Linked DNA regions of Homo sapiens: region 1 is linked to region 2. The links come from fine-mapping of genetic effects on gene expression. A gene starts in region 2. The other region holds a variant in brackets. All regions are shown on one strand. Distances are between the middles of the regions.

Evidence for each region. PIP is the estimated chance that this variant, and not a neighbour inherited with it, causes the effect. A credible set is the group of variants that fine-mapping cannot tell apart.
Region 1: its variant is the best candidate, but not a certain one, in a credible set for the expression of RNF181 in whole blood (INTERVAL, PIP 0.50).

What each region holds. Positions count from the first base shown.
Region 1 is chr2:85,686,197-85,690,433 of GRCh38, forward strand. It overlaps the pseudogene GPR160P1. Among named protein-coding and RNA genes, the nearest start is that of GNLY, 6.0 kb to the right of the region's middle. RefSeq lists an enhancer at 909-1,411. The variant C/CA (reference allele first, on the strand shown) is at 1,720.
Region 2 is chr2:85,593,904-85,598,431 of GRCh38, forward strand. It overlaps RNF181 (ring finger protein 181), which reads left to right and starts at 1,842. Exons shown (of 5, transcript NM_016494.4): 1 at 1,842-1,946; 2 at 2,616-2,746; 3 at 2,919-3,028; 4 at 3,201-3,275; 5 at 3,542-3,805. The coding sequence starts at 1,861. The coding sequence ends at 3,601. RefSeq lists a silencer at 1,734-1,873.

The sequences.
Region 1 (4,237 bases), 92 kb after region 2:
GAGGATCACGAGGTCAGGAGATCAAGACCTTCCTGGCTAACACGGTGAAACCCTGTCTCCACTAAAAATACAAAAAATTAGGTGGGCGTGGTGGCGGGCGCCTGTAGTCCCAGCTACTCGGGAGGCTGAGGCAGGAGAATGGCGTGAACCCGGGAGGCGGAGATTGCACCACTGCACTCCAGCCTGGGCGACAGAGCGAGACTCCGTCTCAAATAAAAAACAAAACAAAACAAAACAAAACAAAGAAAAAGGATGATTACTTGAAGTGGTACAAATGACAACCAGGTACCAAGAAAACAGTGAGTTTGGGCAAGTGTAATTTTTTAGAACTCACAGTATATCTAGAATGGGATGAAAGGGAAGAAGATATAGGATAGTCTCATTCATATAGAAAGTTATCCTAAAATCATGTAACAAAGAGGTTATAAAAACCATAAAATCATCACGAAAAATGACAGCCACTAGCCCTGAATGCTGATGTAGAAAGGACATTGATGAGAATAAACCTTCTGTGCCTTCAGGCTTTGGCAGATAGCTGGGTCTCCCAAAATGTAAGCAAGGACTGAAACGTAAATTGAAATTACTGCAAAGAAATAAAAATAATTTTGACGCTTAAGGGAAGCTTGCTTTTTGAGAAATTCAGGCAATCATCTATACAAACTATCAGGAAAACTGGATAATGCAAAAAGGCTTTAAGTAAAGGACATCATTTGAGTAAATAGGCAGATGTGGTATTTAGTAAACCTAGTGCCTGAAAGTACAGAATTTCTGAAATAGGAGATGATGGAAATGTTTACCAAAAGTACGAGATTGATGGATGCTGGTGAAATGTAAAAATATTCCATACAATTTCACAGGTGTATTTTCTTCTCATTCTTAGGGTGAGGCTATTTAATAATATTTTCCCAAGTGCAATCAGACAGTTAACATCTAGGGACTGCTTGTTTGCTGTGACTGGTGCTGAGAAGAGCAGTTCTCTAAATAAAGGGTCATCATTTTTTAAATTTCAGAAAGTCTGGTGAAACACATACCAAAAAATCTGCTTCACTTTATTTCCCATCATCTGCTTTCTCCCATAGGTCTTTTTTGGCTGATTATCTCCCTATTTTATTTCTGTTTTACTGCCTTTAATTATCTCATTTTGAGTCCCTGGCATTTTGTTTTGTTATATCAAAATGTCACGTGAATAGGCTCTGAGTCATTTGCGCAAGCTGGGGAGAAAGCGGAGAGGGATCTGCTCCCAGCTGGACATCCCTCTGAAGTCTCCTGCCCCCCGCTGACCCCCACCATCTCCCTGGCCACCCAGAATCATCACGGTCCGGGTCCTGGGTTGGCTGATGCTCAGCTCCCCTGCACTGGAAAACTCTTCCTAAAACTTTATTGAGAGAGAAAAAAGATGACTTGGAAAAAATAGAAAGTCATACTATGATCTGCTGGGCGCGGTGGCCACGCCTGTAATCCCAGCACTTCGGGAGGGCGAGGTGGGCAGATCACTTGAGGCCAGGAGTTTAAGACCAGCCTGGCCAACATGGTGAAAACCAGTCTCTACTAAAAATACAAAAATTAGCCAGGTGTGGTGGCGGGCGCCTGTAATCCCAGCTGCTCTGGAGGCTGAGGCAGGAGAATCAGTTGAACCTGGGAGGCAGAAGTTGCAGTGAGCCAAGATCACACCACTCACACCACTGCACTCCAGCCTGGGCAACACAGCCAGACCTGTCT[C/CA]AAAAAAAAAAAAAAAAAGTTATACTATGATCATGGCTGAAAGAGTGGCTATAAAGAAGTGAATTTTTTCCATATTAGTTTTTAGTTATAACAAAATTAAAAGTGAAAATTAGAATCTGATATACTATTGGTCAAAATAATTTATATTTAGCATTTAGTAGATATTTAATATTTAGTATATAAATATTATACCTTATATATACTTTTAGCATATAAAGTATTATAGTAAATAAAATATTACCCAATGTACAATTTAAAAGTAAAGGAATATCAAAGGAAAATATCAAGAAAACTGCAGGATTAGATAATGTGGTGTTAATAGAACACAAGATATTTGGGTCAATTAGACAGAATGGATAGGTCAGAATTTGATCCTATTACATATAATTGAATATACAATAAAAGAACCATTTCAGATCAATGGAGAGGAGGGGAAAGTATACAATCAATACCTTTACACTAAGGGAATAGCATTTTGAAAAGAATACATCCCACCTCATACCTCCCTAAAATCAATTCCAGAGGATTGAAGTGTCACATTAAAAAAAGTCTAACTGTAAAAATTAGCAAAAAAAATATTTTCTAGGGAAAAAGAGGCAATCACAACTTTCTAAACTGAGAAAATATGTCATAAATATACATATTTGATTATAGAAAATGAAAACTTTCTATGCATAAGAACCTTATGGAAATTTAAAGGTCAATCAAGAAGTGACAAAATATTTGTAGCAAATATATCAAAACATTAATGTATTTATTAGTAAAGAAGTCTTACAAATTGAAAAACATAGTAGAGTCCAGTAGATATTGGACAAGGGACATAAAAAGACAATTTCAAAATAAATGTAAATGTAAACAAATACCTGGGAAAATATTAAACTTAATTTGTAGTCATTGAAATGGAAATAAAAGTAGGTGTTAGTTTCACTCATTACATTTGCAAAATAAAGAGTGTGACAATATTCAATGCTGGTGAGAGTGCAGGGAACTCTCATACAATGTTGGCAATGTTGTAAATGGGTACAATCCTTTGGGGAAGTATTTGATATTGTTCATTGGGAGCCATAAAATTGTAACTTAAGAATCTTTTTTGTTCGGGCGTGGTGGCTCACACCTGTAATCCCAGCACTTTGGGAGGCTGAGGCGGGCGGATCACCTGAGGTCGGGAGTTCTAGACCAGCCTGACCAACATGGAGAAACCCCGTTTCTACTAAAAATACAAAATTAGCCAGGTATGGTGGCACACGCCTGTAATCCCAGCTACTCATGAGGCCAAGGCAGGAGAATAGCTTGAATACTGGAGGCGGAGGCTACGGTGAGCCAAGATCATGCCATTGCACTCCAGCCTGGGCAACAAGAGGGAATCTCCCTCTCAAAAATAATAATAATAATAATTTTTTGGATAATTTTTAAATTGAGGTATAATTTACATCTAGCAAAATGCTTAAGTCTTAAGTGTCCAGTTTGAAGAGTTTTGATAGATGCACACTCATGCAATTCACAAGCTAATTAAGATATAGAACACTTTCACTATCTAAAAAAAATACCCCTGTGCCAGCCCAATAACCCTCACATCCTCCTCCCACCTCCTACCATTTTTCTGATTTCTTTTGCCATAGATGAATTTTGCTGCTCAAGAACTTCATACAAATGGAATCATACAGAATGTAGTCTTTCGTGTCTGGCTTCTTTTTCCTTTTTTTTTTTTTTTTTTAAAGATTTATTCATTTTATTGCTTGTATTAGTAGTTCATTCCTTTTTATTGCCAAGTAGTTATGTATAATATTGTATGGCTCTACCTTAATTTCTTCATCCATTGACCTGTTGATGGACATTTGGGTTATGTCTAATTTTTGGCTGTTATGAAAAAGCTTCTGCAAACAATCTTTTATTTATTTATTTATTTATTCATTCATTCTTCCTTTTTTCATTTTCTTTGAACAACCTTTTAAAACAATTTTTTTCTATTGTGGTAAAATACATATAACATAAAACGTTTACCACAAAAAATGATAACGGAGGTGATAGATATGTTAATTACCTTGATTTAATCATTCCAAGTGGTATACATATATCAAAACATCACATTGTACTCCATAAATATATAAAATTATGATTTGTCAATTAAAAATAATATTAATAAAAATAAATGACAAAATTAGCCATTTTAACCATTTTAAATGTACAATCCAGTGGCATTAATTATACTCACAAGATTGTGGAATCATCTATTTGGAACTATCGATTTCCAAAACCATTCTCATCATCCCAAATGGAAAGTCTAACCAGTGGGCACTAAATCCTTCATTTCCCACTCCTTCCAGCCCTGGGTAACCTCTAATCTACTTTCTGTCCCTATGAATTTGTTTATTCTATAAATTTTATGTAAGTGGAATCATACAATGTTTATCCTTTTGTGTTTGGCTTACTTCGCTTGGCATAATTATTTCAAGGTTCATTCATGTTGTAGTATGTATCAGAACTGTGTTCCCTTTTTAGGCTGAATCATATTCCATTG
Region 2 (4,528 bases):
GAGACAAGGTTTCACCATGTTGGCCAAGCTGGTCTTGAACTCTTCACCTCAGGTGATCCACCTGCCTCGGCCTTCCGAAGTGCTAGAATTGCAGGCATGAGCCACCGCGCCTGGCCCAAAAAATTTTTCATAAGGCTCTCACCTTCAGATAAATGGTTTCCCCTCTGAACACTTCCCACTCCTCAATTTCTCTTTCCACATTCTATCTACCTCAAGCTTTACATCAGACTGCAGATGGGGGAAGTGACAGCAAGAGATGGGGACCTTAAAGCACTCCTTGGTATTCCCATCTCCCTCCCTCCCTTCCTTCCTTTTTCGACGGGGTCTCTCCTGTGTCTTCTCTCCCTCCCTCTTTCGACGGGGTCTATGTTGCCGAGGCTGGTCTCGAACTCCTGGGCTCAAGCAATTCTCTTGCCTTTAGTGCTGGGATTGCAGGCGTGAGCCACCATGTCCAGCCTGAATTCAGGCTTTTCAAAGCTACAGGGCCATATAGGCCAGGGAGGCAGTGCCTTCAGGGCCATAGCAAAGATCATTGGGCAAAGGCATGGAAGAAGGAAATAAAGCCACACCAAGACTGTGGAAACAGGGCAGCCTCTGCCTGGGCTACTTAGCTGCAGTTCAAACTCAGGTGTGAGTGGCAAGGGGAATTCAGGGTCAAGTGTGTAAAATAAGCAGTTCCTTGCTGGGTAAAGTGAGCGCTACTGACAGAAACCAGAATAAGCCTGAGTTGTGTGGAGCTTCACCCCTTACAGAGCGTGTTAGTTTTACTGAGCGCATTAGCGTCTTCCTCTCTTGGGAAAGATGGAGGAAAGCACTTGGCCCTGCAGCTGGTCTGCAACACCACTTACAGACTGCAAATTTGGGCAAGCCACTTCTGAGGTAAAAAGGGCATAATGACGCTTAGCTCCTGGGTCTATTGAGGGGATGATCGAGCGTGTAAAACATACATCAGACTAACAGTTCTAGATGCTAAATAGTACCTATCATCCAAATCATTGAGTGCAGTGGTTCTTAAACCTGCTTCACCTGCATAATTTATACAAGTGCCATTGCCCAGGCCCCACCACAGATCAGTTAAATCAGAATCTTCGAAGGTATCAGACACGGGTGTTTCTAAAGCTCCTCCGCGCCCATTCTCTCCTCTGGGAATTCATGTGTAGCCAGGAATGAAAAGGTCTTAGTACAAGCCAGCAGTTTTACAGAAGCTAGGGATAGCAACGGGCTGAAGGTAACAGTCCCATGAGCTGGTTGAGGCCCCAGGTTCTCCGGCAAAGAGATCTCTCTCAGTTGGGGAGGCTTGCCCCACCCTTTATTATTATGCCTAACACATAAGAAATGCGCAGGAATCAAACGCAAACTGGTGAACCAACTAGAGGGCCGCGGGGGCAGAAGTGTCCGGCGGGGATCCGGACAGCGCATCCGGAAGCGCCATGGGCCAACGCTCGCAGGAACCTGAACCCCTGGGCCAGCGCCGCCTTTGCTCGCAGAGGCCTCTAGCATCTGTACTGTCGAAGCCCTCTGAGCTTCAGGGCAGACTGAAGAGCCTTACACACCAGACACTTGGACGCGATCGCGCCAGAAATCCCCGGGAATTCAGTCTTGGCTCCGACTCCAAAACAAATGATTCCTCACCAGCCAGATCTCCATCATTGGCGTTAGTCTCTGGTCACCTGACTTGTTCAAGCCAATGAGAGGGGGCCGAATTAGTACTTCCGCTTTCCGTGCTGTTTAACGAGCCACTATGCCCGTCCCTCGGATACTCTGATTGGCCAGCCTCTCTCAGCTCGTCAGTTTATTGGCCAGCGCCGCTAGGCCGCTATCGAGCAGGGTCCGAGGGCTGTGTCAGAAGGCTGGGCAGCCATGGCGTCCTATTTCGATGAACACGACTGCGAGCCGTCGGACCCTGAGCAGGAGACGCGAACCAACATGCTGCTGGAGCTCGCAAGGTGGGTGCGCGGGGCTTGGGGATAGGGTCCAACCAGCAGGTTTCTGGGCTGGGGCTGGCTGGAGAAGGCGGATTACCAGGGGCAGCGGATTCTGGGGAGGACAGATGAGTAATCTGGAGTGTTAGTACGGGCGGCGAGACTGAGGGGTGTGGGGATGAGCATCTCGATAATTTGGGCCGTCCGTTGGGCCGGCCTGGGGCAAGGGGATTGCGGGAAAGATTGGAGCTGGAGAGTGGTGGGCGTGGGGGCGGAAGGACAGCAGGCTCTGGGAGGTCTCAGAGAAGGTGAGGCATGGGGGCGGGGTTGGGGCCGTGTGCTGTGAGTGGGTATATTCATCAGTAACAGCAGGCACTGCTGTTACTGGACCTGGAATCTGGCTTGGTCTTGGAATCTGGGCTCTACCAGGTTATTCAGCGTAGCCTGAGTAACTTCTCTGAATCTGTTGCCTCATGTGTAAAATGGGAATAAACACTTTACGTGCTGGGGCGGTCTGATAGCAGTTGTAAACTATTTCCCATCGTGCTTTTTATCTAGTGAGCATCTACTAACTACTAAGGGTAGCTATTATTCCTACTAGCTGGGCAGCGTGTTTATTAATGTCCAGTGGATTATGGGGACAAAGAAAAAGCATAGTTTTCCTTTGTTCTGACTTTACATCCCCTTCCCCAGGTCACTTTTCAATAGGATGGACTTTGAAGACTTGGGGTTGGTAGTAGATTGGGACCACCACCTGCCTCCACCAGCTGCCAAGACTGTGGTTGAGAACCTCCCCAGGACAGTCATCAGAGGCTCTCAGGCTGGTGAGGACACTGATTCTTTCTGCTATTTGGGCCAGACCCACCCCTTCCCCAAGCCAGACTGTGGTCTGGTCCTTCAGTTTTCCAGGTCAGGTGGGGGCAAGTGTCCTTCAGGAGTGGGAGCTTGGGAGGCAGAGCCTGTAGCAGCTCTCCTGATCAGCACTCCTTCCTAAAGAGCTCAAGTGCCCCGTGTGTCTTTTGGAATTTGAGGAGGAGGAGACTGCCATTGAGATGCCTTGCCATCACCTTTTCCATTCCAGCTGCATTCTGCCCTGGCTAAGCAAGGTACTGCTTCTCTTCTTCTAGCTCTCACCGTGCCCTGGGCCCAGTACTCAAGCTTCTTTCTGTTCATGGACTGCTGGGGGATGGAAGAAGAGTGGCAGTTGGGAGCAGGGGAGGGTGGTTATCAGCTTATGAAGATCAGACCAAGGCTAGAACACTACTCTACTTTTCTCAGACAAATTCCTGTCCCTTGTGCCGCTATGAGCTGCCCACTGATGACGACACTTATGAGGAGCACAGACGAGATAAGGTAGGGGCTGATGCTTAAGTGGAGGGGTCGTAATGGGCTCCCTGAGTCCTGTCCCCGCTGCCATCACTTCCCACCTCAGCAGGACTGGGTAGGCCTCAGAATCCCTGGCTCTGGCTGTCTTCTTAGTGACTTTGATTTGTGGTGAGAGCCTCAGCAATGCAGACGCCAGAGGCCTGAAAACAGAGCCAGCCCCATAATAGCTGCCCATCCCCTCACCCATAGGCCTTCAGTTTTGGCCCCTGCCCAGCATGCCTTCTTTCCTTCAGGCTCGAAAACAGCAGCAGCAACACCGACTGGAGAACCTCCATGGAGCCATGTACACGTGAGGAGGTTGGGGCTGAGTGCTGGCCCTCTGCGTCTTCCTTATTAACCTTGAATCCTCATTAAAGGTTTCTTTACCCACCCTGAGGCTGTATTGATCACAGACCTGGCCAGGGGCTCTGCATCCTCCATCAGGTCTCTACTTCTGTTGGGGAAGGTGATCCTAAATCGCAGAAGGCACCAGGCTGCGGTTTTCCTCCCTGCTGGCCCATCTGGACTCATGGCAGTGGTAAAGAACTGGATTACTGCAATAGCCAGGGCTTGGGCCTATGTGTTCATGGTTGGAAGGCAAAATGTGTCAGGGTCTGGTACCCAGTTAATTACTTAAAGCTGATAAACTAGGCTGGGTGCAGTGGCTCATGTCTGTAATGCCAGCAGTTTGGGAGGCCAAGACAGGTGGATCACGAGGTCAGGAGTTCGAGACCTTCCTGACCAACATGGTGAAACCCCGTTTCTACTAAAAATACAAACATTAGCTGGGCATGGTGGCACGCACCTGTAATCCCAGCTACTTGGGAGGCTGAGGCAGGAGAATTGCTTGAACCTGGGAGGCAGAAGTTGCAGTGAGCTGAGATCATGCCATTGCACTCTAGCCTGGGCAACAAGAGCAAAACTCCGTCTCAAAAAAAAAAAAAAAAAAAGCTGATAAACTAGCCTGCACCCTCCTCCCACTGCAATGTCTAGTTAACTTTGTAATCCCACAGGTTTTCTTTTTGCTCCATTGAGAAAGCCACTTTTAATATTTTAAAGTTGCTCTCTGTACCACCCCCACCTTCCCCCCATGCCTCCTAAGGAATCAAAGTTCAAACCAGACTCTGAGTGGGGGATGGGTGAGATTATCAGACCAAGTTAGTTCTTTAGATTGCTTAGAGGCCCAGAAGGGTTTCAAGCCCTTTGAAGGGGTATTTGGGTGGCACCTGGCATCCTTTGTT